Linked DNA regions of Homo sapiens. The protein of the gene in region 2 interacts with the protein of the main gene of each other region in a pairwise test. Each region holds a gene or a part of one and is shown on either strand. Other genes may lie near its edges.

Region 1 (7,534 bases), on a different chromosome or scaffold from region 2:
AAACTACCAAGTTCTCATATAATTAGAAAGCATTTGTCTTAAAAAACACCTCAGAAATTCTTTACCTTACAGCTAGTGGTGAGTCAAAAAGGCGAGAAATTGTAATTATGTTCAGATAGGCCCCCAAGTTTGAGAATACATTCTAAATATGCAGATTTTTCTGGAAGGCTTTCAAGAAGTGGAGCTGGAGTCAGTGGGAGTCCTTTGTATTGATGACAAACTCGAGGTTGCCTGGGAAAACAGAAGTCTGATACAACTGGTGTCAAATAGTTCCTAGGCCTGAGATTCTACAAGACCTACTTCTCAAGCTGCACTAGGGTACCAGAGGGCTGACGAATGTGAAGTTGAAATATCTGGACAGCTGTATTTCCAGCATTCCTTTGGGAAAGTCTTGGTGGGGTCAGAACCTCCCCTTCCTTGACAGGCCTCATGTTCTAGCTGTAGCTGCGGGAGCCAGAGCAGAACTGTCCCGAAGTCTGTGCCTTTTTATCTTTTTTCTTGGTGAGCCAATTCCCTCCTTGCTGGGACTCAATGGTGTTTTCCGTTTCCATTTTCACTTTCAGAGAAAACAAATGCTACCCTCCTCAGGTTCCCAGGAGTGAGCCTCTCTTTCTTACGCGAAGGTCTTGCATTATCTGTGGGCTTTCTGGATACTGTCCTTGTATCTGTTGTGAAGCTATTAAGCCTAGAGGCAAAGACTTGATTTGGACATAAGAGAGACAGGTGTTGTGTAAGCTTCCCCTTCAGGCAGTTTGTGCAGGAGGCTTCCCTCCTGATGATCTCAAACACCCACCCACTGTTATTCCCATTTTAAACCTCTCTGGATCAGAGAACAGTGTACTCTGCAGATGTAACTAGTACTTACTGAAACAAATAAAACAGACAGGATCACTGAATGCCAAAGATACACTAATCTATTTACACCACCCACTCTCAACTATTCTCTAAAGTGCCGTAAATATTGGGTTTTCTGTTTGGGGGATTGCGATAGCTAACTAATGAAAGAAAAACCAAAGCAAGATCCCGAACCTGTTGTTGCTGGAACTGCAACCTCAGGCCTGCCTAGCTGTCCACACAGTAACTATACATTATCCTATACATCCTGTAGGCCTAACAGTGTTTTCCTCCAATTGAGCCACCTGAGATATTTACTCTAAATGCCTCTGCATTTGATCTTCAAATATAAGATTGATTTAGGCCTCAGGTCTGTCTTTTGAAGTCGGAGCAAAAGGTTCAGGTGCTTTGTAACAATTATGTGGTGTTTTCTAAACCAGATTGCTTTTCCTAAGATTAGGAAGCCAAATAAAATTAAACAATAGAAGGAAGAAGCTGGTGGCAGAAGCAGAAACGATTAAAGTTATCTGGGATTAAATAAATGTCATATTGCAGGATAATATTGCATTTTTATAATGTATTTATTCTTTCTTGATATAAATGGATTTGATTTTACATATTTTTCTCTTCTTAATATCACAGTAGTGGGTTCCCTGCCTTCTCAAATAAGATACTCTCTTTTCTCACCAAAACAGTTCTTAAGCCTTCACCTGAATCTATTATTACTAAATATACCTCTCTTCACGGCCATTTGAATACAGAACAAAACAAAAGCTTCCCAGAATTTAGTTACACATGTATTGAATAACACTCTTTATCATAACAGCATCTACATACATTTAAAAACAGCAGTGCATTGTCTACAAATACATAATATTTATTCAGTTTAAAAACAATGCTTAATGCAGGTATAGATGCATGGACCTTTCAGATTATCTATGGACCACAGGTAAGAAATGACTCATCTTGAAGAACTAAAGTTTGTACTCAGTGCTGCAATGTCTGTGAGATGATACATTCCTTCTACTATGTTTGATTTTTAAAAAGCAGTTTATTTTATCCTTGAAAAAAGATTACACTAATTTTCTTAATCTGATAAATGCCCTGAGGTGTGAGATCTGTTTCCTAATTAAAAGTACTTTACAGCAAATCTAGAGCAAGACTGAGGGGAACGAAAGTTACCAGTTTTGAAGGCCATAGTGAAAATGTCCCATCTCAACAATAAAAATTGGATTTAATTAAAACAGAACTAAATTCTGATTATATCTGTCTGCAACATGATTAATAATACTGTTAACTTATGGGTGCTTTTGATTTAAAAAGAGGCCCACATAGAACCTGTGGACAATGAGGAAAACAGCCCATGTGAATGAGTGGGTGAAGTGGATCACATTAGGGCTTTCAGGAAACAAGGTACCTTTTTGCTATTATGTGTAGAAACTAAGGCAATGTGTCATTGGAACAGCTAAGCCTGCTGGTTGAATTAGAGGCAGATTATTTCTCAAGGGACCTGTTTGTTGTTGTTGTTGTTGTTGTTTTAACACACACACACACACAACTAAATAGATACAGGATAACATTTTGTTTAAGCATTTTCCTGGTGAACATTAAAAAGGCATTTCCTAATGCCTATGAAGAAGTGGGAAGATGGGGAAGGAAACATTTTTTTCATTGCAATTTAAAATGATGCAAATTATTGAGTTGGATGCTATATATAGTAAGGCATACTTAAGGAGGGTAAGAGGCAAATAAGTTTTATATTTGCCTTTCTAGAAGAGGCATATTGAATGCATAAAAAAAACAAAGTGTGTATAGTGGTAGATGATGGGGCAGTTGAAAAAGATTAAGTGGAAGATGAGTTTACCTACAGTTTTAAGCTCAGAAGAGCAACTGTGGATTCTGGTGGTGATTCTGGCTAGCTGGTTGACTACCTGTTCTTGCCAGGGACACCACTGACCTGTTCTTTAGTTTGTTTACCTCAGAAAAGAGTCAGCTATTCCAACAAGATAGTGTGGAAGTCAATAAGACAATTTTTAAAAACTTTACAAGCACTTCCACAGTCTCAGATAATGTGTAAGGCATATATTTGAAAGAAATATTAACTTTGACATAACAGAGATGAGCTTTGTCTTAGACAATTAAAAATGCAGTGTAGGGTATCAGATATATGGAGGAACTACCTATTTCTCAAATAATCAGGTCAAAACTTTAACTGTTTTATCTATTTTAGAGCCTTTATATCCAGAATTTTCTATAATCAATATCAGACATTTACACTCATCTGTACTTATCTGGCTCACTTTACTTTTCAAGATTATAAAATATGAAATGTCAAAATATTACCTTCATCATAAATGATGCTCACATATAATTTTTGAAGTATTCGTTCTTGTATTCTCAAGATGATGAAATAAACCATTATTTAAACTACTGATCATTTCCTACATTTTTTCCAAACAAAAACTAGAATATGGATTAGTCTATTTCACACCTCCACTTAAAGAAAAAAATGTCCATTTTTATATTCCTTTTAATGTCATAAATGTGTTACTATTATGCTACTTTCTCTGTCATTTTACTGAGTACAGAGAAAAAGCAAACTTCTAAAAAAAGAAAAGAAACAATTATTTCCTGATTTAAGGATTCCACCGTTGTTATTAGTAGAAGGCTATGGTAAGGTACCAACATCTGCTTAAAGTTATACAGAAAAGAAGCTGAGTCCAGAAGTGAGATCAGAGTTATTACAATAGACAGAACAGAATTTGGGGTGTAGGCCACAGTACATCTTCTTATTTTCTTATTCAGGGAGAAATTCCATATGGCTGCTTTTCTGTGGGTGCCATGAAGATGGGAGTTGATAAGGCTGGGATGCTCCTGGCACCCTAAGACTCTTCTTCACCAAGGCTCAATGAGTAGAGGTTTTCGTCTCAGTAACTGCTGCTTTGTCTCAATCATAATTTTCTCTTATTTGCATCAAACTATCCTAAAGCAGGATGTGGGCATTTGTATTTTTCCTGGCTTCCTCATTCTATTGCTTTTCAAATACAGCTATTTCAATGTTCCTAGAGTGAAAATCCCAAACCAGCTTCTGTGAGTCAGGGCCTTTGTGTGAATTGTGATCCACTGTATGTGTGAGAAATAATGCATTGAAATGTTTTAAAAAAATCAAAAGCTATGAAGCTCATAAATTGACCATGAGTCTGAGTTTTTCTGTCATCTGCTTTTTTATGTTCCTTATAGGTACCCTGTGTGATCACGCCACCCTGGTCATGGGAAATACTTGCATATGAGAATGGGCAACTGAGAGGATCTATTTTATAATCCCACAACACAACGAGAGTAGCTTTGTATGTGGGTCCTAATTTGTCCCAAGGACAATAGCCATTATTTTGGTTGTCCATGTGTAACTAAGATTTTTTTTTTAAAGTTTTCCTCCATCAGTTGGGAGTTTTTCAAAAGTGTGTGTGTGTGTGTGTGTGTGTGTGTGTGTGTCAGAGAGAGACAGAGGGAGAGGGAGAGAGTGCAACGGAGAAAAAAGAGAGGTTTGTGAAATCTTAGACCTAAATGAAAATAGCTATTTCTACAACAGACTGGCTTTTCTCCTCAACAACTTTTCTCAGGGTCAATATTTCCTTCAGCTTTTGGTGTTCTTTTTGTAAGAGGAGGTATGGGGTGCTGGAGCAAAGGCCTACAGCAGAGACAGCAGTTAAATCACACTGAGCTAGGTTTGCATATGTTTTCTATGTATTTTATCCTGTGTGCATGATCTATCTGCAAATAAATCCATCTCTATTTTATTCATAGTTCTAATGGCAAGTCTGTGTCATGGTCTGAACCAGGTGGAGGACAGGTGCCCAAGGGACAGCATATGTGGCACCGCCTCTCTGTGCACGTGAAGACCAATGAGACGGCCTGCAACCAAACAGCCGTCATCAAGCCCCTCACTAAAAGTTACCAAGGCTCTGGCAAGAGCCTGACCTTTTCAGATACCAGCACCAAGACCCTTTACAACGTAGAGGAGGAGGAGGATGCCCAGCCGATTCGCTTTAGCCCGCCTGGTAGCCCTTCCATGGTGGTGCACAGGCGCGTGCCAAGCGCGGCGACCACTCCGCCTCTGCCGTCCCACCTGACCGCAGAGGAGACCCCCCTCTTCCTGGCCGAACCAGCCCTCCCCAAGGGCTTGCCCCCTCCTCTCCAGCAGCAGCAGCAACCCCCTCCACAGCAGAAATCGCTGATGGACCAGCTCCAGGGAGTGGTCAGCAACTTCAGTACCGCGATCCCGGATTTTCACGCGGTGCTGGCAGGCCCCGGTGGTCCCGGGAACGGGCTGCGGTCCCTGTACCCGCCCCCGCCACCTCCGCAGCACCTGCAGATGCTGCCGCTGCAGCTGAGCACCTTTGGGGAGGAGCTGGTCTCCCCGCCCGCGGACGACGACGACGACAGCGAGAGGTTTAAGCTCCTCCAGGAGTACGTGTATGAGCACGAGCGGGAAGGGAACACGGAAGAAGACGAACTGGAAGAGGAGGAGGAGGACCTGCAGGCGGCCAGCAAACTGACCCCGGATGATTCGCCTGCGCTGACGCCTCCGTCGCCTTTCCGCGACTCGGTGGCCTCGGGCAGCTCGGTGCCCAGCTCCCCCGTGTCCGAGTCGGTGCTCTGCACCCCTCCCAACGTATCCTACGCCTCTGTCATTCTGCGGGACTACAAGCAAAGCTCTTCCACCCTGTAAGGGGGAAGGGTCCACATAGAAAAGCAAGACAAGCCAGAGATCTCCCACACCTCCAGAGATGTGCAAACAGCTGGGAGGAAAAGCCTGGGAGTGGGGGGCCTCGTCGGGAGGACAGGAGACCGCTGCTGCTGCTGCCGCTACTGCTGCTGCTGCCTTAAGTAGGAAGAGAGGGAAGGACACCAAGCAAAAAATGTTCCAGGCCAGGATTCGGATTCTTGAATTACTCGAAGCCTTCTCTGGGAAGAAAGGGAATTCTGACAAAGCACAATTCCATATGGTATGTAACTTTTATCACAAATCAAATAGTGACATCACAAACATAATGTCCTCTTTTGCACAATTGTGCATAGATATATATATGCCCACACACACTGGGCCATGCTTGCCAAGGAACAGCCCACGTGGACATGCCAGTCGGATCATGAGTTCACCTGATGGCATTCGGAGTGAGCTGGTGGAGCCAGACAGAGCAGGTGCGGGGAAGGGAAGGGCCCAGGCCAGACCCATCCCAAACGGATGATGGGATGATGGGACAGCAGCTCCTTGCTCAGAAGCCCTTCTCCCCGCTGGGCTGACAGACTCCTCATCTTCAGGAGACTCAGGAATGGAGCGGCACAGGGGTCTCTCTTCATCCACTGCAACCCATCCAGTGCCAGCTTTGAGATTGCACTTGAAGAAAGGTGCATGGACCCCCTGCTGCTCTGCAGATTCCCTTTATTTAGGAAAACAGGAATAAGAGCAAAATTATCACCAAAAAGTGCTTCATCAGGCGTGCTACAGGAGGAAGGAGCTAGAAATAGAACAATCCATCAGCATGAGACTTTGAAAAAAAAACACATGATCAGCTTCTCATGTTCCATATTCACTTATTGGCGATTTGGGGAAAAGGCCGGAACAAGAGATTGTTACGAGAGTGGCAGAAACCCTTTTGTAGATTGACTTGTGTTTGTGCCAAGCGGGCTTTCCATTGACCTTCAGTTAAAGAACAAACCATGTGACAAAATTGTTACCTTCCACTTACTGTAGCAAATAATACCTACAAGTTGAACTTCTAAGATGCGTATATGTACAATTTGGTGCCATTATTTCTCCTACGTATTAGAGAAACAAATCCATCTTTGAATCTAATGGTGTACTCATAGCAACTATTACTGGTTTAAATGACAAATAATTCTATCCTATTGTCACTGAAGTCCTTGTAACTAGCGAGTGAATGTGTTCCTGTGTCCTTGTATATGTGCGATCGTAAAATTTGTGCAATGTAATGTCAAATTGACTGGTCAATGTCAACCTAGTAGTCAATCTAACTGCAATTAGAAATTGTCTTTTGAATATACTATATATATTTTTTATGTTCCAATAATGTTTTGTACATCATTGTCATCAATATCTACAGAAGCTCTTTGACGGTTTGAATACTATGGCTCAAGGTTTTCATATGCAGCTCGGATGGACATTTTTCTTCTAAGATGGAACTTATTTTTCAGATATTTTCTGATGTGGAGATATGTTATTAATGAAGTGGTTTGAAAATTTGTTATATTAAAAGTGCACAAAAACTGAGAGTGAAAATAAAAGGTACATTTTATAAGCTTGCACACATTATTAACACATAAGATTGAACAAAGCATTTAGATTATTCCAGGTTATATCATTTTTTTAAAGATTTTCCACAGCTACTTGAGTGTCTAACATACAGTAACATCTAACTCAGCTAATAATTTGTAAAATCTTTATCAATCACATTTTGCCTTCTTTTAATTTTTATGTTCATGGACTTTTATTCCTGTGTCTTGGCTGTCATAACTTTTTATTTCTGCTATTTGCTGTTGTGTAATATCCATGGACATGTAATCCACTTACTCCATCTTTACAATCCCTTTTTACCACCAATAAAAGGATTTTTCTTGCTGTTTTGATTTCTTCTATTATTTGTGGAATGAATTATACCCCCCTTAAATATCTTTGTTT
Region 2 (7,534 bases):
AATGTGGGCTACAGGAGGGAGACCTTGTTCTTCCCACACTGGGACAGGCAGGGCTCTGTGTTTGGTACCACTGAAGTCAAGATAATGAAATACAGTTTCAAGTTTCTATTTCAAATGAATCAGACAGTAAACTGTCAGCAGACACCTAAATATGTGGGTGCTTAATTCTCATCTACGATTTTTTTACACCAGTCATGAACATTGCACTAGAGTTTGCCAAACCAGAAAATAAAAACAAAAAACTCCATGAAAACCTACACGATCTGCAAACATGCAAATAGGTCCATTCTAGATAACCAGACATGACCATGAAATTAACTTTTTTTCTTTAGATGGAGTCTTGCTCTGTCGCTAAGGCTGGAGTGCAGTGGCTCGATCTCGGCTCACTGCAACTTCCGCCTCCAGGTTTAAGTGGTTCTCCTGCCTCAGCCTCCTGAGTAGCTGGGATTACAGGCGTGCGATACCACACCCAGCTAATTTTTGATTTTCTTTCTTCTTTTTTTTTGAGACAGCGTCTCGCTCTGTCGCCAAGGCTGGAGTGCAGTAGCGCGATCTTGGCTCACTGCAAGCTCCGCCTCCCAGGTTCACGCCATTCTCCTGCCTCAGCCTCCCAAGTAACTGGGACTACAGGCGCCCGCCACCACGCCCAGCTAGTTTTTTGTATTTTTAGTAGAGACGGGGTTTCACCGTGTTAGCTGGATGGTCTCAATCCCTTGACTTCGTGTCCCACCTGCCTCAGCCTCCCAAAGTGCTGGGATTACAGGCGTGAGCCACTGCGCATGGCCAGTTTTTGTATTTCTAATAGAGACAGGGTTTCACCATGTTGGCCAGGCTGAATGCCTGAACCTCTGACCTCAAGTGATCTGCCCACCTCGGCCTCCCAAAATGCTGTGATTACAGGTGTGGTGAGCCACCAGGCCCAGACCTAAATAACCTCTTTTTTTTTTTTGAGAGACGGAGTCTTACTCTCTCGCCCAGGCTGGAGTGTAGTGGCACAATCTCAGCTCACTGCAAGCTCCACCTCCCGGGTTCACGCCATTCTCCTGCCTCAGCCTCCCCAGTAGCTGGGACTACAGGTGCCCGCCACCATGCCCAGCTAATTTTTTTTATTTTTTAGTACAGACGGGGTTTCACCATGTTAGCCAGTATAGTCTCGATCTCCTGACCTCGTGATGTGCCCACCTTGGCCTCCCAAAGTGCTGGAATTACAGGCGTGAGCCACTACGCCCAGCCATAACCTCTTTTTTCTTTTCCCTCGAGACAGTCTTGCTCTGTCACCCAGGCTGGAGTACAATGGCGTGATCTCGGCTCACTGCAGCCTCCGCCTCCTGGGTTCAAGTGATTCTCCTGCCTCAGCCTTCTGAGTAACTGAGATTACAGGTGCGTGCCACCACACCCAGCTAATTTTTTGTATTTTTAGTAGAGACGGTGTTGCACCATGTTGGCCAGGCTGGTCTCGAACTCCTGACCTCATGATCCACCCAAAGTGGAGGCTGAACTCCGCCTCGGCCTCCCAAAATGCTGGGATTACAGGCATGAGCCACCATGCCTGGCCCTAAGTAACCTTTTAAACTAACCTCAAGAGGAGAGAAATCGTGATTAACTAAAAATGAGAGGCCTCCCACAGGGACCACCAGAAACTCCACTCGGAAGGTATCATGATTTCCATCGTAGGTTGCCTTAAATTTCAGGTAGATCAGGTACACTGTGGCATAGGAGCAGGCAAGGTAGATAACCTACAAATAAAAGAAAAAACACCAGGTGTCAATACCTTGCCACTGTTCCAGCACCCCCCAGCTTTTTTAATCACCCATGTATTTGGAAAGGCAAGATTTTTTTCCTTAGCTTTGTTTTTGGAATTTTAAAACTTAAATATAGTAAAATTCTCTTTTTTGGAGGTGTTCAGTTCTGAGGCATAACCACCACCAAAATTAGGACACAGAATAGTTCCATCATCCCCAAAATTCTGCCATGCTGCCGCTTCGCAGTCAAACTCCCCCAGGCTTCCTTCACCTCCTGCAGTGCAATCACACTTATGTTCTCTGTCCATAGTTTTGCCTTTTCTAGAAAGCCACATAAATGGAGTCACATAGTATGTTGCCTTCTGGGTCCAATTTCAGTTAGCCTAATGCATCTGAGAGGCAACCAAACTTATTGTGTGTATAGCAGGTCTGCCAATAACATCCTTTGGTTGTAACACTGATGAGAAAAGAAACTGGTTCCCGGCTGGGGCCGCCATCCATGGCGTTTGCATGCTCTCCCCGAGTCCACGTGGGTCTTCTCCAAGAGATACTCTTGGAGAATCTCCCACCAGAGATACTCTGGTTTCCTCTTACATCTCAACGATGCCAGTTAGGTGAACTGGCATGTGTGAACTGTCCTAGTGTGAGTGGGTGTGGGTGAGCGCGCCCTGTGATGGAATGGCATCCTATGCAGTTGGGGGAAAGTTCGCGCCTTGAACCTGAGCTGCTGGGATAGGCTCTGGCCACCTGGGACCCTGAAATGAAGTAAGTGGGTTGGAAAATGAATACAAACTATGGTAAAATAATTCATAAAGTAGTATACAATAATTATACATATGTACCACAATAAACAATGTAGTACAAAAGCACTCAGTGAGCCTGCTATATTTGTTATTGTTTGTTTTTGAACTTTATGGTAGTAGGAGGTACTCCTTATAATTTTTGTTTGTAAACATATACTTCTTGATTTAATCCGCCACCACTATGACCACCATCATGCACGGATTCACCAAAAACTGGATAAATAATTATGTTGCTTTTATTAATCTTTCTTAAATGTATAGCTCATGTTGGCTGGGCATGGTGGCTCACGCCTGTAATCCTAGCACTCTGGGAGGCCGAGGCAGGCGGATCATGAGGTCAGGAGATCGAGACCATCCTGGCTAACATGGTGAAACCCTATCTCTACTAAAAAAAATACAAAAAATTAGCCGGGCGTGGTGGCGGGTGCCTATAGTTCCAGCTACTCAGGAGGCTGAGGCAGGAGAATGGTGTGAACCCAGGAGGCGGAGCTTGCAGTGTGCCGAGATCTCGCCACTGCACTCCAGCCTGGGTGACAGACTGACTCTGTCTCAAAAAAAATAAAAAATAAATAAATAAATAAATAAATAAATGTATAGCTCACATTTGTTTCGGTTTTTTTTTTTTTTTTTTTTTTTGAGATGGAGTCTCGCTCTGTCGCCCAGGCTGGAGTGCAGTGGCACAATCTCGGCTCACTGCAACCTCCGCCTCCCAGGTTCAAGCGATTCTCCTGCCTCAACCTCCCAAGTAGCTGGGATTACAAGCGCCTGCCACCATGCCCAGCTAATTTTTATATTTGTAGTAGAGACGGGGTTTCCATGTTGGTCAGGCTGGTCTCGAACTCTTGACCTCAGGTGATCTGCCTGCCTCGGCTTCCCAAAGTGCTGGGATTACAGGCGTGAGCCACAGCACCCGGCCTGTTTTGGGTCTTTATTTAAAAGTCTGGTGGTGTTTTGGGGACCGGAAATATGCTGTAGGAACTTAACTCTTACTCATGTCAATTAGCCTATGGTAAAACTGGCTTCAGTGTATGTTGTTTCACTTCAAGTTGCAGTGTGTGTTGTTTCACTTCAAGAACCTACCAATGACATTAAGTGAGGGCCTAGTGTTAATAATTTGTTCCTTTTTATAGCTGCGTCCATTGGTGGTCCATTGTATGGATGCACCAGTTTGTTTATTCACTCACCAGTTGAAGGACAGGTGGTTTCTAATTTGGGAGGACAGTGGATAAAGCTGCTGTGAACATTTGCGTACAAGTGTTTGTGTGAATGTAAGTTTTCACTTCTCTTGGGTATGTACTTAGGGGTGGGACTGCTGGGTCATATGTTAAGTGTAAGTTTAACTTTTTTTTTTTTTTTGAAACGGAGCCTTGCTCTGTCACCAGGCTGGAGTGCAGTGGAGCAATCTCGGCTCACTGCAACCTCCGCTTCCCGGGTTCAAGCAATTCTCCTGCCTCAGCCTCCCCAGTAGCTGAGATTACAGGCGCATGCCGCCACACCCAGCTAATTTTTAGTAGAGATGGGGTTTCACCATGTTGGCCAGGATGGTCTCGATCTCCTCACCATGTATGTGAATAAATACAAAACAAAATCTACATGCATAAACAAGACACACATCCATCTACACATGCACTGAGCCCCCTCAGCGCATCTAGCCAAGGCTCACAGCAGAGAGGCCTCTCACCAGGACCTAGACTGTGGCCAGCTCAACATTAATAAAAACTTGATGGGCGTTATTTCCACTAAGGCCTTAGCAGCACCTGGAGAAGAACAGCTGCTTCTCTCCTCTCACCAGCACACAGAAGTTAAAGTAAAAAGACACGAGCACCTCGGGTCTCACGCCAGACTTTCAGGACATCGTGCTTAGAAACTACAACCAAGCAAGCATGGATTCCTCTGAAACCTGGGCATCCTGAGGGGGAGAGAGGATTCTTGCTCACACACCTCTAATGCCTGCAGTTTTAACTTGCCTAGACAAGTGGGGACCTAACCATTTTTAAGTAAGCTCATTATTTCCTGAATACTAGGTTCCCATCATTTGGTAATGAAGAATCCATTATAAGTGACTCAAATTTGCTTTTTAGTAAAGACCAGACTCACATACTGCTTTGTCTCCTTTCAACAGTGCTTATGAAAATGCTCTTGAACACAAAATGTTGGGGGGAGGTTGTTTAGGTGCCATACCAATAGGATTCAGTTGAAATATTACTTCCTTGGGTATGCTAATAACCAAATGGCCTAGAATAGTGCCTGGTGCACAGGTGCTCAGTATTTGTAGAAAGAAGGAAAGAAAGAAAGAAATCAGACTCCTATTACATATCCTGAGAGCCCCTGTTCTTTTTTTTTTTTTTTTTTTTCAGACAGGATCCTGCTCTGTCACCCAGGCTGCCAGGCTGGAGGGCAGTGGTGCAATTACGGCTCACTGCAGCTTCAACCTCCAGGGCTCAAGCGATCCTACCACCTTACCCTCCTGAGTAGTTGGGACTACAGGAGTATGCCACCATGCCTGGCTAATTTTTGTATTTTTTTTTTTTTTTTTTTTTTAGAGACAGGGGTCTAACTATGTTGCTCAGGCTGGTCTCGGATTCCTTGGCTCAAGCAATCCACCCACCTTGGCCTCCCAAAGTGCTGGGATTACAGGCGGGAGCTACTGGGCCTGTTTCATGTTTTTTATATCCATAGGTTCGCAACTCTTATACTTTTCCTTTGTGGCACCCATCATAAATCGCAGTCATTTGTACTGCCATGATCTGTGTACTCTCCCACACCAGCCTAGAGACTTCTGCTTATTTTCTGCCGCATCCTCAGTTCCCAGCTCTGTAGGTGTTCACAAGCATGAATTCAACACTGTGCGAAAGAACTGAAGCTCACGTAGTCCACAACTTCCCCCAGTGTGGGGTGTGTGCCACCAGTGCTACACAAAGTGTTAGGTGGTGTGCAAACATTTTGTATTTTAATAGTTATACACTAGTTTTAATGTGAATTAGAAAAAATATAAGAAAGACAACAAAGGTGTTATAGATACTAATAATTAGGACAAGTTGAAAGGTTTAAAAAAATACGTTACTAAGTAAATGATGGTATAGAGATCATTTAAGCACGGCAAATGTAATAAAAATGACACACACACAACAGTTTAAGTAAAACTGACTCAGTGGCAAAGAAAAAAGATAGAAGCCTATAGACAGTTCCTCACACAGCAGCGAAATGAGACACTGCAACTAGGAGTCCTGCTTTCGTTCCTTGTTATGTACCAACTTGCTGGATTTCTCTGGGGACTCTGTAATTTCCCACGGCTTGAAAATATAATAGTTACCGCTCTTACTTACAGAGTTATCAAGAGCTTTAGATTTATCATACTTAAGGAACCTAAAATAAAAAAGTTCTAACTTCAAAGTATTTTAATTAACTACTGTTTTGAAACCAAAAATGTATGCTTACTGATAGCTCGTTTAGTCCCAGTTATATATACAAGGTGGTCTGAAAGTTTTAAAGTCAAGAACAGCATATTAAGACATTATTTTTGGAGCATTTTAATTAAAAATACACAGCTGACATAAATTAAGTGTCCATAGACCTGTGCACTGTAGATGAAATACATTCCTGTGGATGGCATACCATACCTTCATAGATGTGTTATACAATGAAATAAATGAAGTAAAAAGATCCAGGTAACGAGTTGTGAAGACCAGTGCAAACAGAAGCTGGCTTTTCCCAGAAATACCTAGAGAAACAGAAGGGAAGTATTAGAAGGGCCTGAAGAGCTTTGGGATTCCTGTGGATCACACTGTGCAGGGAGTGCAGACAGGGAAGGAGGGGTGCGTGGGGTCAAGGCCCAGGTCTAGGGATGGCTCTGAATGAACAAGAGCAGTTGTAGTTTTTCTATCCCTTCCCATTCCCAAACATGCTCCTTTTGGGAGGCTCTAACAGGCTTTTCTGTCTCACTATAAAGGGCGACCACAGGAAAGGGGCTTTATTATGCCAGGATGTGTATCATTCAAACGAACCTTTTACTTCTCAAATATATCACCTTAAGTAGGAACAAATTTCTCAATAATTCTGCTGTCATTTAGTGTTATAACTTGTCTCTTACATTCAGATTTTTCTTTTTTGTTTTCCCCTGAGACAGGGTCTCCCTCTGCTGCCCAGGCTGGAGTGCAGAGGCACGATCAAGCTCACTGTAGCCTTGACCTCCTGGGCTTCAGCAATCTTCCCACCTCGGCCTCCAGAGTAGGTGGGACTAGAGGTGTGAACTACCACACCCAGCTAATTTTTAAACAAATTTTTTGTTCACCATGTTGCCCACACTGGTCTTGAACTCCTGGGCCCAGCTTCCCAAAGCGTTGGCATTACAGGTATGAGCCATGTCGCCTGGTCCCTTCTTTGTATGGTAAAACAGTATCTCCATGGTGAGAAATCTTTTGAGAACGGAGATGGAGTCTACTGTCATTAAGGGGGATGAGGAGTAGATGAGAAGCACCGACTCAGGTAAGAGTTGGGCAGGAACTCCCGCTGGAATAATGGCATCGCATCCCATGGTGACTTCTTTGCTAAGAGCGGCAATTACTTGGATATGTTAAGATTTTTAAAGCTTCCCTCTCAGTTAGGCATAGTGGTCATGCCTATAATCTCCACATATAGGGGGGCTAAGGCGGGAGAATCGCTTGAGCCCAGGAGTTTGAGACCAGACTCCATCTCTACGAAAAATAGAAAAGTGATAGCCAGGCAAGGTGGCACACACCTGTGGTCCCAGCTACATGGGAGGTTGAGGTGGGAGGATTGCGTGACTCCAGGAGGCTGAGGCTGAGTGAGCTGTGGTCACATCCCTGCACTCTAGCCTGGGTGACAGAGCAAGACCCTGTCTCAAAAAATAAATTAATTACAATAAAATAGAAATTCCATTGTATTTGTATAAAAATGTTCCTGAATGCTAGGACAACATGAAGGTATGAACCCACAACTACAGCTGGTCTTCAAAAGCAGCTGTCTTTT
Region 3 (7,534 bases), on a different chromosome or scaffold from region 2:
GGACAGCATCAGCTCCCTATAATTTCATCTTTGACCCAACCAATCAGCACTCCCCTTTTCACCCCCTACCCACCAAATCATCCTTAAAAACCCCATTCCCCCAGTTTCAGAGACACTGATTTGAGTAATAGCAGAATAGTAGAAATTCCCCCAGTTTCAGAGACACTGATTCGAGTAATAGTAGTAATAGTAGAATAGGTCTCCCGTACAGCTGGCTCTGTGTGAATTAAACCCTTTTTCTATTGCAATTCCCCTGTCTTGGTAAATCGGCTCTGTCTAGGCAGCGGACAAGGAGAATCCATGGGGCGGTTATAAGAGCTGCCCCCCAATTTCAAATATTTATATCTAAGCTTTCTTTATTTTCCTGCCTATTTCCCAACAAGGGATGAGGAGCTTAGGGAGTTAAAAAGTAGTAAAATATGGGGAAAAGGGCATAATTCCCATTATACCAAGAGGCATTGCTGGTGAAGCAATACCTTTCCAGGTACGATTTTCAGTAACACAGACGTGCAGTAAGAGGCAGTGTTGGCTGTTAGTGTCTTTTATGAGCCAAGTCTTTTCCTGGCTTGGCTATCCGTGGTGAGACTGACACCCCGGGAAATGTTTCTCTCAGGGTGAGCTCTTTCAGGGTGGGACAACAGCTTCAGTGTCTTTACGTATGTCTCCTCCCAACATGAAGCTAATTGCTGTGCTCTCGGGCATGTTTAGCTCTTGGTAGAGTGGCTTTCCTAACAAATAGGGAGCAGTGAGCCCAGCCTGAAGTTTTTATTTAGTCACTCCTTAGAATCAGTGATATTTTGAATACTGAAGTATTTCCAGTGGCTAGTAATTTACTAAGACAAAAGATGCCCCTGTTTGCATATGGAAAACAGAAGGGGAGAGAGCCAGGAGGTGTGGGTGAGAGCCCCGAAGGCAAGAGGATCCCAGGGGCTGGCCCAGCACGGAGCTGGTAGACAGCGCGCTCACACCAGGGAGGGCTGCACCCTCCTTTCTCCCGTCTGTGTTTTCTTTCCCTTGCAAGTGTTATTCGACAAAAGCAATTATGCTAATTTCCTTCCCTGTGGGCTCAATTCCTTTTTTGACACGATGACTTGGAGGAGTCATTATGATTACTCCAAACAGGAAAGACACTCGCCCAGCTGTCCGCCCGCAGAGAGCTGGCTACGGTGCAGAAAGCTGAGGAGGCGTCTGGAGTTTTTGGGTGTTAATGATTCTGCCTGCCCACAGGTCGGGTCTTGGGGTCTGGAGCGTTTGGGAAGGTGGTTGAAGGAACAGCCTATGGATTAAGCCGGTCCCAACCTGTCATGAAAGTTGCAGTGAAGATGCTAAAACGTAAGTGCTCCTTCCTGGGGATTTTTTGAGCACGGGGATTTTTTGAGCATGGGGATATTAAGGGAATTTCTCAAAATCATGCAGCTAGTAAATAAGACATTTAGGACTAGGTCCTGATTATTTTGACTCCAGGTTTTATGTGTATTTAGATTAGGTTTATTTAGATTGCTCTTGCTGCCTGTATGTTGGAAAATTAAGAGCTTGTTATTTCCAGTGACTTCTTTTTACTAGAAAGACCAGGAATTAGTTATTAGCACTGAGGCCAAGTAGCTATCTGCTTCTTTTAGACTTCTGGTAAATAGAATGATATCCAATCACAGGATTAGTCATATTCTTGGTTTTTTTCTGAGAACAGGAAGTTGGTAGCTCAGCTGGACTGATATGTGATTTATTCTTTCAACAGCCACGGCCAGATCCAGTGAAAAACAAGCTCTCATGTCTGAACTGAAGATAATGACTCACCTGGGGCCACATTTGAACATTGTAAACTTGCTGGGAGCCTGCACCAAGTCAGGTGGGCTCACTGACCTGGAGTGAGGATTTTCACTGGACACATGTGGTTGTGAAAACTGTTCAATCAGGCTTAAATCCTCCACTCTCCATCCCCACACATGGCAGGGAATAGAAGTCCCTTGAATGGAGCTGACTGGTCCCTTGAATTGATGGAAGCTCATTGGTTTTTGAGCAAAATCTGTTGCCAGTCCAGTCATAGCCATTCATGGCTCTTTATTAAAAAAAAAAAAAAAAAAAAAAAAAAAAAACTTTTTTGGTATCTTATTTTTTTCTGTGCCATATGGTCTGCAGGACAATTCATGGCTTTTCTGTTCTTCATTTTCATACCCATCTCCTAACGGCTTTTGTCCCCATAGGCCCCATTTACATCATCACAGAGTATTGCTTCTATGGAGATTTGGTCAACTATTTGCATAAGAATAGGGATAGCTTCCTGAGCCACCACCCAGAGAAGCCAAAGAAAGAGCTGGATATCTTTGGATTGAACCCTGCTGATGAAAGCACACGGAGGTGGGTGCAAAGAGAGATGTTGCTGTCTATCATTATCTTACAGGCATCACAAATGGAAAGACCCATGTCCTGATAGATATCATGTCTGCAGATTCAGTGCCCAAGGTAGCAAGACTTAGAGTCAAACCACCCTGTCCAGTCTTTCCATGGTCATGCAGAGAGATGCATGATGTCTAAAGGTGTTTTGGACTGGGGTGTCACATGGGAAGGCCTTGCTGATAGGTTTGAATGAGAGTGAGTTAGAATGACTCTGGGAGCTCTTCTGCTATTTACATGTGATCCACTTAGACCTATAAAATGCAGCTCTGGCCAGGGATGCTTGAGTTCTGGAACCTTGCAAGAACTGTCTGTGGATCTCCAAGCTCGAGGTCCTTGCTGAACCTGGACCTATAAATGACGTCAATGATAGTGATCCCTACTGCAGAAATCTACAAGTGGCTATAAAGAACTCTGTAGGTAAGAAATTCTGTAAGATCAGAAAGTACAATGAATTCACTTCATAATAAATTACTTGGTGGACACCAAATGGGTGCTAAATTGATTGGGTAGAAGGAATTGTATGCCCAAGCCACATGGCCACACGGCTCAAGTTCCAACCAAGGCTTGTGAGTTGAAAAACTGAGAAAGAATAATGACAGACTTAACGTAGTGAATTCTTCAAACTTTAAGTGTAATGGACTTACAGGTCCATGGGAGCACAGCCCCACTGTCTTAGATGTGGCTCTTCAGGATGTGCGGGCTCCTGCTAAGGATGTGCAGGGAACTGGCTCTGAAAACAAGTGAACAGTAGTCATCATGGCAGCTGACATTTGTGGAGTCCTTTGTATGTGCCAGGTGCCATGACAAATATTCCGCTAGTCTTTCCCATCTTTGTCAGTGGGATCCATTCTACGTCTTCTGAAAAGTGCTTCCTTGACCCCCAGATCAAGTCATTTTCCTTACAAGCTATTGAAACCTTTCTTCCTTCACAACACAGCTGAGTTTGAGTTGATCTGTGTATTTATTTTGTTTTTTACATTTCTTTTTTTCCCTATTTAAAAAATTTTTTTATTTCCATAGGTTTTTGGGGAACAAGTGGTATTTGGTTACATGAGTAAATTCTTCAGTGGTGATTTGTGAGATTTTGGTGCACCCATCACTGGAGCAGTATACACTGAACCCAGTTTGTAGTCTTTTATCCCTCACCTGCCTCTCAATTTTTCCCCGAGTCCCCAAGTCCATTGTGTCATTCTTATGCCTTTGCATCCTCATAGCTTAGCTCTCACTTATGAGTGAGAACGTACGATGTTTGGTTTCCATTTCTGAGTTACTTCACTTAGAATAATAGTCTCTAATCCCATCCAGGTTGCTGCAAAAGCCATTAATTCATTCCTTTTTATAGCTGAGTTACATATATATATATATATATGCACACCTACACATACATATGTATAGATACACTGCAGTTTCTTTATCCACTCCTTGATTGATGGGCATTTGGGGTTGGTTCCACATTTTTTCAATATGTGAATTGTGCTGCTATAAACATGTGTGTGCAAGTATCTTTTTAGTATGACTTCCTTTCCTCTGGTAGATACCCAGTAGTGGAATTGCTGTGATGCATGTATTTGTGCGACTATTTGATTAATGCTCATTTCCTTGACTAGATCACCTCATGTGAAAGGTATGGATTGGTTTTGCTTTTACCCAGTTAGCTCCCATGCCTACCTCAGTACCTGGCACATAATCATCATCTACTGAAAGTGGAATGACCACTTCAGAAGGGCACCCTGGGTAAGATTTCTCTTTCTGTTTTTACAGCTATGTTATTTTATCTTTTGAAAACAATGGTGACTACATGGACATGAAGCAGGCTGATACTACACAGTATGTCCCCATGCTAGAAAGGAAAGAGGTTTCTAAATATTCCGACATCCAGAGATCACTCTATGATCGTCCAGCCTCATATAAGAAGAAATCTATGTTAGGTAAAAGTGTCTATACTCACTCTGGGTGTTGGGACTTTCCAGTGGTTTAATATGATACTTAAAGTATTTAGAGGGAAGTGTATAGGGATGGTAAGTGAACCTGGCAGCCCACGTGGTCTCTAAATGCAGGTCTGCACAACCAGTTCTGTGACATGTTTCCAGGTTTGTGGCCTGTAAATTGAAAAGAATAAAAGCTGACAATGTAACAAATTTTTTAAACTTTAAATTTAATAGTTTTAAAGAATTTTCTTGGTGTGTTCCTGCAGTAAACATTTTTTAAAAAAAATAATTATTTATTCTGATATAATGAACTTCCTTTTTTATTGCTGTCTTTTTCTTTTTTAATGAAAATATGGTGATTGATTTTTTTTAATGCCCTTACTTGGCAGAATTACAAGTTGGCTGTCTTATGTTGGTTCCTCACCTTGCTTTTTTTCCCTTAAGTTTTAGAAGTCTCTGATGTCTATGAGTTCAGTAACCCTTGCTTTTACTTTTCCTAACATTCAATTTGTGATAGGAACTCTAGAGTAGATAATTTGCAGTTATATTTTCTGGACCAGTGTTTCTGTTGAATGTATTTTGAAGGTGGGTCTATCTGTTTTTCAAGTACATGAATATGTGGCAGGGTTAAATTGATTTATAAACTCCAGGGAGTCCAGCTGATGCCCAGACCAGATGGATCACTTCACATCTGCTCAGGGTGGTTCCTCCAGAGCCCTGAACTGGTCACAGACATGAAGCTGGAAGTCTGACATTGGCTTGTCCTGTGAGCTTGCCTTTTTGGGTCTGAGCCTTCCCATTAGTCAATGCAAAAAAGTGTTGAGCTGCCCTGGACATTGTTTTGGAAATTATTGATGTGCTCTGAATGTTTTCAGGTTCTTAAGTGAAAGGTACAATCCATTTAAAAAAGAATGTGTTTGTTTTGCAAAGCTCAGTACACAATATTTTCCATTTCTGCGGTTCCAAGTTCCATTCACTTCTCATTGCCAAATGGGTGAACTTCCAAGCGCTTTTAAAAGATTAGCCAGTGAGAGTTATCGGAACCAGTACTTCCTCTCCCCTCCCATATTGTTAAAAATAGTTTACATTGCTTCCCAGGCTGGGCTGGTGGAGTTGGCACGAGATGTCAGAGGAACCTGAGTCATGCTCAGGCCCAAGCCCTGTTGGCAGGCAGACCACTGCTTTCTGGCCTTCCGTGACTATCTGAAAAAAATCGTGAATGGCTAGAGCTACTCTTCACTTGCTGAACATTTTCAAAAAGAATTGAGAACTTCTGGATTAAATTGCCTTCTTCCTCGAAAACCCTGGGACCCTTCCAGATGGGACTAACTGGGGAAAGTGGACAAGTTACAAACAAAGAAACTCAAAGGAAAGTCATTGGCACTGATCTCTAAGATGCTATCACATGTGATTGGTGGTTGATTTTATTAACAAATTATAAGCAAAGTACTACAAAGGTGGCTTTAAAAAGAAAATAAAGCAATTCACAGAAACTACTTTTTCATGTAGCTTGTATGTGTGCTCCATGTATTTCATCATGGAAGATTTTAGTGTGTGTTTATGTGTATGTGTGTTTTAAAGGTAGCTGAGATGATTTGCTAATTATGGTTGAAAAAAAGAAATTTAGGAGGTAAACAAAATAATTATGTGTAAGATTGGTCCTTGTGGCTGTGTGTGTGTTTTGTGTGTGCGTGTATGTCTCTGTGTGTTTTAGGCTGTTCTTTTATTGCTATAAATAAATACTTGAGACTGGGTAATTTATAAGGGAAAGAGGTTTAATTAGTTCATGATTCTGCAGGCTTTACAGGAATCAAGATACTGGTAGATCTGCTCAGTTTTTGGAGAGGCCTCATGAAGCCATGAAGTCATGGCAGAAGGCAAAGCAGTGCAGGCACATCACATGGCCAGAGCAAGAGCAAGCGAGAGAGAGAAAGAGAGAGGTGCCACACACTTCTAAACAGTCAGATCTTACAAGAAGTCACTTACTATTGCGAGGACAGCACCAGAAGGATGGTGCTAAATTGTTCGTAAGAAATCTGTCCCCATGATCCATTCATCTGCCACCAGTCCCCACCTCCAATACTGGAGATTACAATTCAACATGAGATTTGGGTGGGGACACATATTCAAACTATATCATACTGACCCTGGACCCTCCCAAATCTCATGTCCTTCTCACATTTCAAAATACAATCATCCCTCCACAATAGTCCCCTCAAGCCTTAACTCATTCCAGCATCAACTCAAAGTCCAAAGTCTTATCTGACACAAGGCAGGTCCCTTCCACCTATGAGCCTGTAAAATAAAGAACAAGTTATTTACTTTCAAGATACAATGGGGTTATAGGCATTGGGTCAACATTCCCATTCCCAAAGGGAGAAATCGGCCAAAAGAAAGGGGCTACAAGCCCCACAGAAGTTCAGAACCCAGCAGGGCTGAAAACTCCAAATAAACTCCATTGACTCCATATCCCATGTCCAGAGCACACTGATGCAAGGGGTGGAGCTCTTGGGAGGGATGGAACACCCTGTGGCTTTGCAGGGTTTAGCCCCTGCAGCTGCTCTCAGGGGCTGTTGTCGAGTGCCTGTGGTTTTTCCTGGTGCAGAGTGCAGGCTGTTGGTGGATATATTATTCATGGAGGATGGTGGCCCTCCCCTCGTAGCTTCACGAGGCAGTGCCCCAGTGGAGACTCTGTGTGGGGACTTCAACCCCACATTTCCCCTCTGCAGTGCCCTAGTAGAGGTTCTCTGTGAGGGCTCCAATCCTGCAGCATGCTTCTGTCTGGACACCCTGGTTTTTTAATATATCCTCCGAAATCTAGGCAGAGGCTCCCAAGCCTCAACTCTTAACACTCTGTGCACCCACAGGCTAACACCACATGGAAGCGGCCAAGGTTTATGGCTGTCACAAGCTGAAGCAGCAGCCCAAGCTGCACCTGAACTCCTTTGAGCCACAGCTGGAGCTGGAGTCATAGGGATGCAGGGAGCAGTGTCTCGAGGCTGCACAGGGCAGTGGACCCTGGGGCTGGCCCATGAGACCATTCTTCCCTCCTAGGCCTCTGGGCCTGTGATGGGAGGGGCTGCCATGAAGGTGTCTGAAATGCCTTAAAGGCCTTTTTCCCATTGTTTTGGCAATCAGCCTTTGCCTCCTTTTTAGTTATGCAAATTTCTCTAGCAAGTGGTTGCCCAGCAGCCCTCTTTAATTCTCTCCCA
Region 4 (7,534 bases), on a different chromosome or scaffold from region 2:
AGTGGCCTGGGAAGTCAGACCAGCCTGCAGCCCCCGGCCCAGACCATCTCCAACGCCCCTGTCTCCGAGTACATGTACGGCCTGCACACACACCCAGGCTGGGTAGCACTGCCCGGACAGCATGTTGGGTGGGGTCCACAGTGCCGGGTGTGGGGAGGAAGGCATCCAAGGCCACCCGTGGTCCCCACTACAGCCACAGGGTGCCTGGAGGGAAGGCCCCCGGGGAGCATCTAGTCACCCCTCCACACCCACATGTGCTGGGGGAAGAAACCACTGATGTCAGCAGCCTCTGCCACAAGCTGGTGGGACAGGTCTCAGGCCCAAAAAGCTGCATTTCTCCAGGCCATGCTGCTCCCAGCCTCCGTTGCCCATCAGCCACTTGTCCCCAGGCTTCCCAAGGTGCTCTTCTCCATATCTGCCCACTGCACCCCCTCCACTCTATCTGTGGTTTGGTTCCATCCCCCACCTCCCATGTGCTCACCCATGGGACCCTCCTGTAGAAATCTACACACACCCCCACTCCCACACCATCCCCTCCTGAGCTCTCCTCTCATCCCCGCAGGAACCAAGCCATGCTCTTTGGTAGGAACCCACGCTACGAGAACGTGCCACTAATCGGGAGAGCCTCCCCTCCGCCTACGGTAATTGGGGCTCTGGCCCTTCCTTGTTGGGGTAATACATAAAGACAAAACCTCCTGCCAACCCAGTGAATCCTGTCCACAAAGGCAGAAAAGAATGAAACTGTTCTGTTATTGAATATGCACTAAACCAGACCGTCGTGGGTATCCCAGGCAGTCCGCTAAGGAGATTGCAAAGATGCAAGAAATCTCACTCCTTCCCCTAGCCAGGCAGGAACAAGACACAGCCCACTGCATACCTGTCATCCAGCAAGAGGACTTGACGGCACTGTTTGTCACAGTAGTCCACCTTAATCCACTTGCTAATTGGGGTGGCCATCCTGGTTAAGTAATTGCCTTTATTTATTTATTTATTTATTTTTTGAGGCAGAATCTCACTCTATTGCCCAGGCTGGGGTGCAGTGGCGCAATATCGGCTTACTGCAACCCAGGTTTCAAGCAATTATCCTGCCTCAGCCTCCCAAGTAGGTGGGACTACAGGTGCGTGCCACAACGCCAGGCTAATTTTTGTATTTTTAGTAGAGATGGGGTTTCTCCATGATGGCCAGGCTGGTCTCAAACTTCTGACCTCAGGTGATCCACCCGCCTCGGCCTCCCAAAGTGCTGGGATTACAGGCATGAGCCACCGCGCCCGGCCAGCTAATTGCCTTTATCCAGAGGAAAAATAAAACTCCTATTTCCGTGACAATCAGATAGCTACAACTTGGAGCCAGGCCCCTAAGTGAACTGTCACTGAGAAGGAGATGAGGTGCTGTCTTCCTGATGTTTGTACTTCCAAGAGATGGCTCCCAGACCTGAAAAAACCATACCTGGATTGTAACACTGGCAAGGGCCATATTCAGCCTTTAAGAAGGTTTGCAGACATCTCAAAAGACAGAAATTATTTACAATGATAAGTTTTCTAAAGGAAATACTGCAAGAAGAGAGGGGGTCTCTTTCCCTTTTTGCTCCAGAGAAAATTAAGGAATTTTTTTTCTTTTTAGATTTCTGTTTACCTTAATCCTTGGTCTCTTTTGGGCTGGACGGTGGGTTGGCTGTGGTGGCGGGTCTGGGAGGGCTGAACCCAAACACAGCCTTCCTCAATCCGTCTCAGCTCCCCATGTCCCTAGGACTGTGCCCAAGTAGGGCCAGTGCCTCTTGTCCACCCCACCACCTCCAGCCAGAGTACCTGAGATACAGCCTCAGGGGAGTAGCTCAGGGTGGGCAGGTTGAGAAGGAAAGACTATGCTGTCTCATCCCAGAGAAGTATCCAAAGGACACAGAAATACTGGCTGAGACAAAGAAAGCTGTAAACAGACAGTGAAGTGACCGCCAAGGTTCAGGGACACGGACTCCAGTGCCAAAGGCCTGGGTTCAAATCCCAGCTCATGGCTTATGGCCTCTGTGACTTTGGACAAGCACTTTGCTGCTCTGTGCCTCAGTTTCCCCATCTATAGAATGAGTATGGGAATACTAGCACATTCCTCCTCGGTGGTGTGTGCAATGGGCAAATTGATTGTTATCAGAGCGTACGTGCGAAGCATCCAGTGAGTGCCGTAGGACAGTGAGCTGTTATTTGTGACTTTCTTCCACCCCACCTTCTCCACAGAGCTGTGGCATTTATCAATTTTATTTTATTTTTTATTTTTTATTTTTTTTTGAGACGGAGTCTCACTCTTCTGCCCAGGCTGGAGTGCAGTGATGTCATCTCAGCTCACTACAACCTCCACCTCCCAGGTTCAAGTGATTCTCCTGCCTCAGCCTCCCTACTAGCTGGGATTACAGGCATGCACCACCACACCTGGCTAATTTTTGTATTTTTAGCAGAGACAGGGCTGGCTGGTCTTGAACTCCTGACCTCAGGTGATCCACCCATCTTGGCCTCCCAAAGTGCTGGGATTACAGGCATGAGCCACCGTGCCCGGCCAGAGCTGTGGCATTTATAAGAAAGGACAAGGGGAATGAAAGGCCAGAAGTCTGCCATGGGGTGGGCAGAAGGGTCCTGGAGCCAGGCATCTCCCTTCATTGGGCCTGGCGAGGCATTTCAGTGCCCCGACCCAGATAGTTTGGAAGGGGACATCCAACAGGAAAGCAGAAGCACTGGGGCCCAAATACCTGGGACCAGCGTGATAGACCTGGGCCCTGAGGACCCAGGAAGTGCACGCACAGGCACCCAGGGAGTCAGCTTCCCGGTCATGGCGCTTGGTGAAAATCATAGTGTCAGACCCGAGAAAAGAGCAAGTGGAACCCAGTCCCTGTCTTCAGGAAGTTCCAGTCTATAGAAGGGGCACTCAAGAAGGCTGCCTGTAGAAAGTGCTACAAGGTACTTTGGGACCAGAAAGAAGGAGCCATCTTTGCTGCTGCTCTAGGGGATTCCAGAAGGTTCTATTTAATAGGTGGCGTTTGAGCCACAGTGTAGAGCAGGGGCTCACCCAGGGGCAGTTTTCCCCCCTGGGGACATTTGGCAATGTCTGGAGGCATTTTCATTACCACGCTTGGAGGCTGGGGATGGGGGCTGGATGCTATTGACATCTAGGGAGTGGAGCACCCACCACAAAGCACGGTGCAGCCCCAAATGCCCATAGGTTATGGGGCCTGTCCTCTGCGTGTGGGATGTTCAGCAGCATCCCTGGCCTCTACCTGCTAGCAAGCCTGCTGGAACCAATCCCCCTGTCATTCACTCCTGTGCCACCACCTTGGTGCTTTTGCCTGGAGCACCTCACCTGCTGTCCCATCCCACAGCTTTACAAACACAAGCCCCAGCCTCATGTCGTTCTTTCTTCCTGGGGTCCCCGGGAGTGGGCTGGTTGAACCTGTATTCAAAGTCAGCACCATTTATTATTTATGTTTATTTTTTTGAGACAGAGTATCACTCTGTGACCTAGGCTGGAGTACGTGGTGCAATCTCAGCTCACTGCATCCTCCACCTCCTGAGTTCAAGCAATTCTCATGCCTCAGCCTCCCAAGTACTTGGGACTATAGGCACGTGCCATCACACCCAGCTAATCTTTGCATTTTCAGTAGAGACGGGGTTTCGCCATGCAGGCCAGGCTAGTCTCTAACTCCTGGCCTCAAGTGATGCACCTGCCTTGGCCTCCCAAAGTGCTGGGGTTACAGGCATGAGCCACCACGCCCAGCCTAAAAGTCAGCACCTTTTAAATGCCAGCCTAGCTTCTCTCACTAATCAGAAGCCTCCCGGGTTCCTTTTTCCAACCACCAGCTGCCGTGGCCCCAGGAATGCAGATTGACTTTAATATTAATCTAAGCACAACGTAATTAGGGGAAATCTGCTGTGAAAAAAGAATTACTCTATGCACTGTGATGCCAAATAAAAATGATTTTCAGATTCCCTTCTGTTTGAAAGATCCAGGCCACTCATCCTGCCGTTAGCAGAGATAATCAGCAACTGACCTTATTTGCAAGGCTCAAGGACAGAAAACCCTTCCTCCCTAGATTTAAGACCTGCCCAGAAACACTTATTGCTTTGGCCAAGTTGACTGCCCAGTCCCACCTAGCCCAGCCTGCCCTGGGAAGACCCTTCCACCTCCATGCCCGGTAAGGGACCTAGAGAGACATCTAATGATGCCGCAGACCAAGGAACCCCACAGCATGGAGGGTGTGGGTGTCTGCCCCAGTAAAGACAGCACAGCTGGCTGCGCCCCACCCTCCCCGGGGCGCCTGCTCTAAACACTCCTTAGCACCGAGCAAGTTCGAGAGGTGGATAAACTCCTCCCTCTGCCGAGCACCCTCTCTGGGACAGTCAGGGGACCTCACTGGGTGGGTGATGTCACGCCTGGTGATCGGGATATACAGCCTGTCCCTTGCTGGAAATGTTTCTTCCCCCAGCTCTGCCTTCAAGGAATAATCTCTCCTGTCCTTTTAGGCACTGTTTCTTGGACTTGATGAACAAAAATGACCCAGGGCAGTTAAAGATACTGACGTTGAGACTTCTCTTCAGACTTACAGAAACAGAATATCTTGGGGAAGGAGCCTGGGAGATTCTAAGTTTAACAAACTTATTATCATTCAAGTTGGGAAATATTGCTTTAAGAAGGAGGGTCTTGGCCAGCACCATGCCTCATGCCTGTAATCCCAGCACTTTGGGAGGCCAAGGCAGGTGGATCACTTGAGGCCAGGAGCTCGAGACCAGCCTGGTCAACATGGTGAAACCCCGTCTCTACTAAAAATACAAAAATTAGCTGGGCATGGTGATGGGTGCCTGTAATCCCACCTACTCGGGAGGCTGAGGCAGGAGAATCACTTGAACCCAGGAGGCGGAGGTTGTAGTGAGCTGAGATTGCACCACTGCACTCCAGCCTGGGTGACAGAGTGAGATTCTGTCTCAAAGAAAATAAAAAAGAAGAAGGAGGGTCTCATACTTGCGTATGCATCAGAATCGCCTGAGGGACCCACCCTGTTTCTGATTCAGAAAATCTGAGTTGGAGCCTGGAGATGTGCCTTTTTTGTTTTTTTGAGACTGAGTTTCACTCTTGTTGCCCAGGCTGGAGTGCAGTGGCATAATCTCGGCTCACTGCAACCTCCGCTCCCCAGGACCAAGCGATTCTCCTGCCTCAGCCTCCTGAGTAGCTGAGATTACAGGCCCCCACCACCACGCCCAGCTGACTTTTTGTATTTTTAGTAGAGACAGGGTTTCACCATGTTGGCCAGGCTGGTCTTGAACTCCTGAGCTCTGGTGATCCACCTGTCTCGGCTTCCCAAAGTGCTGGGATTACAGGTGTGAGCCACCGTGCCTGGCCGGAGATGTGCGTGTCTGACATATTCCTAGGTAAAGCTGCTGCTGCTGCCCTGGAAACCACGCTTGGAGAACCACTGCTCTGAGGCCAGCTTCTTCAGCCTCAGTGCTATTGATGGGCAGCGTCATTCTCGGTGGGGGGTTCCTGTACATTGTAGGACGTCTAGCAGCATCCCTGGCATCTACTTGCTACATGCCAGTGGCAGCCCAGTGCCCAGTTGTGACAACCAGAATATCTCCAGACATTGCCTAATGCCCCTGGGAGGTAAAAACATCCCTGGTTGAGACCCACTGGGTCGAAAACCTCATGCTCCCTCCTCCCCAACCCCAGCCCAAGTGGAAGCATTCCATTCCCCCTGATGTGAATGGCCTGGACCCCTGAAGCTTCCCGGGTCAGGAGAGTGGCAGTTTCTGGAAGCTTGTTAGAAGTGCAGAATCTCAGGTCCTGTGGACAAGATCCCCAGGTAGCCTGTGTGCAGGGTATAGAGTGAAAGGCCCTCTCCACTGCCAAGGACGAGTAACTAAGTTCTGTCAGGCACCTACTCTGTACTGGGTCATGCTCCTCCAACTTGAATGCACACTGGAATTGCCTAAAGAGCTCTAAAAACACTGATAGCTCTTTAAATTCATTTTATGTTATGTGTGTGGTCTTTGTTTTTTTTTAAGAGAGAGGGTCTCGCTCCGTTGCCCAGGGTGAAGTGCAGTGGTGTGATCTTAGCTTGCTGCAACCTCCACCTCTTGGGCTCAAGTACCTTCTCCTCCTGCCTCAGCCTCCCAAGTGGCTGGGACTACAGGTGCATGCCACCATGCCCAGCTAATTTTTTGTATTTTTGATAGAGACAGGATTTTGCCATTTTGCCCAGGCTGGTCTCGAACTCCTGGGCTCAAACGATCCTCCTGCCTCTGTCTCCTAAAGTGCTGGGATTACAGGTATGAATCACCACCGTTATGTGCATTTTGCATCAACAAAAATATACATATTTATATACTAGTGGATGTGGCCTGGGCATCGGGATGTTTTTAGGCTCCCCAGGTGTTTCTGGCGAGCAGCCCAGTTTGAGAGCAGCTGTGTTATTAAGGCTCTTCCCTGCTCCATATCATTTCGCCCTTTCAACGTAAGAGCTGGGTGCTCTTATGTCCATTTTGCAGGTAGGGAAACTGAGGCTAGAAAAGGCTGGAGAACCTAAGCCAAGGTCACGGGGTAAGATGCACAGCTGGGATTTGAACCTGCTTCTCTGAGTCTCTGGGCCTCTGCCCTCAGCCTGCTGGCTGCTGACTGCTCCTCCGTGCGCTGGTGGACCCTGACGCTGCCCCCAGTGTGAGGGGACAGGCTGGATGCTGGGGGTGTGTGCTGGGGCGGAGTGGACATTGGAGGACAGCTGGTCTGTGTGTGCATTTTTTATTTGAGGCTGGGAGGCAGAAGTCTTGATGGATGTGGGGTGGAGGCACGGCCGGGTTTCCCTCTGACACCCGACCCAGTTCCACTCTGAGAAGTCCCCGGCACCTTTGCTGGTGCAGTGCTTGGCTGACTCAGCTCTGACCATCCCCTCTCTTCTCTCTTGGCAGTACTCTCCCAGCATGAGAGCCACCTACCTGTCTGTGGCGGATGAGCACCTGAGGCACTACGGGAATCAGTTTCCAGCCTAACAGACTTTCGGGGGTTCCTGCCTCCTTTTTCCGTTCTGGTTTTTAATTAGTGCAAATACAAGCTGCGTTTCTTTAATAGAAACCAAAGGCATCTGGAGCCCGAGAGGCCTCCTGCTGTGGCAGAGGAGCAGCTGGGATTCCCGACCAAAGCCCCAGGGGGTGCAGAAGACTCACCACGCGGGCCAGCCTCTCTCTTTTGCCCTGCTCTCCACACCAGAAATGCCCCCAGGTGCTTGGCTGCCTCAGAGGTACCATCCCTGAGCTGGCTGCCTGGCCCTGCTCACCCCTACGCCTCGCCCTTGCCAGGAGGGGAGTGGCAGTGAGGAGGGGGCCAGGTCAGGCACCACCATCAAGAGAGCTGTGTGTTCTCTCTGGTCCCACAACGATGACTCTGCCTCTTGTCAGCCCAGCCAAGAGCCCAGACGACCCCTCTGTCCTCGTTCCCTGTCCTCGTTCCCTGCAGGTAACATGAGAAGGGCTGATCAGGAGATGCTCTTTAAGAAGTTCGCACCCCTGC

The links.
Region 1: the proteins of KDELR2 (region 2) and GRM1 come close enough for resonance energy transfer, tested with the Homo sapiens proteins (one large-scale study listed by BioGRID).
Region 3: the proteins of KDELR2 (region 2) and PDGFRA come close enough for resonance energy transfer, tested with the Homo sapiens proteins (one large-scale study listed by BioGRID).
Region 4: the proteins of KDELR2 (region 2) and TTYH2 come close enough for resonance energy transfer, tested with the Homo sapiens proteins (one large-scale study listed by BioGRID).

What each region holds. Positions count from the first base shown.
Region 1 is NC_000006.12:146,429,234-146,436,767, forward strand, and holds part of GRM1 (metabotropic glutamate receptor 1 isoform alpha precursor), read left to right. Parts: intron 1-4,638; coding exon 4,639-5,563; 3' UTR 5,564-7,534. UniProt on the Homo sapiens protein: G-protein coupled receptor for glutamate. Ligand binding causes a conformation change that triggers signaling via guanine nucleotide-binding proteins (G proteins) and modulates the activity of down-stream effectors.
Region 2 is NC_000007.14:6,468,019-6,475,552, forward strand, and holds part of KDELR2 (ER lumen protein-retaining receptor 2), read right to left. Parts: intron 6,267-7,534; coding exon 6,166-6,266; intron 1,737-6,165; coding exon 1,578-1,736; intron 1-1,577. UniProt on the Homo sapiens protein: Membrane receptor that binds the K-D-E-L sequence motif in the C-terminal part of endoplasmic reticulum resident proteins and maintains their localization in that compartment by participating to their vesicle-mediated recycling back from the Golgi.
Region 3 is NC_000004.12:54,276,161-54,283,694, forward strand, and holds part of PDGFRA (platelet-derived growth factor receptor alpha isoform 1 precursor), read left to right. Parts: intron 1-1,227; coding exon 1,228-1,332; intron 1,333-1,735; coding exon 1,736-1,846; intron 1,847-2,201; coding exon 2,202-2,355; intron 2,356-4,155; coding exon 4,156-4,322; intron 4,323-5,420; coding exon of another isoform or gene 5,421-5,521; exon of another isoform or gene 5,522-5,818; intron 5,819-7,534. UniProt on the Homo sapiens protein: Tyrosine-protein kinase that acts as a cell-surface receptor for PDGFA, PDGFB and PDGFC and plays an essential role in the regulation of embryonic development, cell proliferation, survival and chemotaxis.
Region 4 is NC_000017.11:74,253,193-74,260,726, forward strand, and holds part of TTYH2 (protein tweety homolog 2), read left to right. Parts: coding exon 1-74; intron 75-562; coding exon 563-641; intron 642-6,936; coding exon 6,937-7,017; 3' UTR 7,018-7,534. UniProt on the Homo sapiens protein: Calcium-independent, swelling-dependent volume-regulated anion channel (VRAC-swell) which plays a pivotal role in the process of regulatory volume decrease (RVD) in the brain through the efflux of anions like chloride and organic osmolytes like glutamate.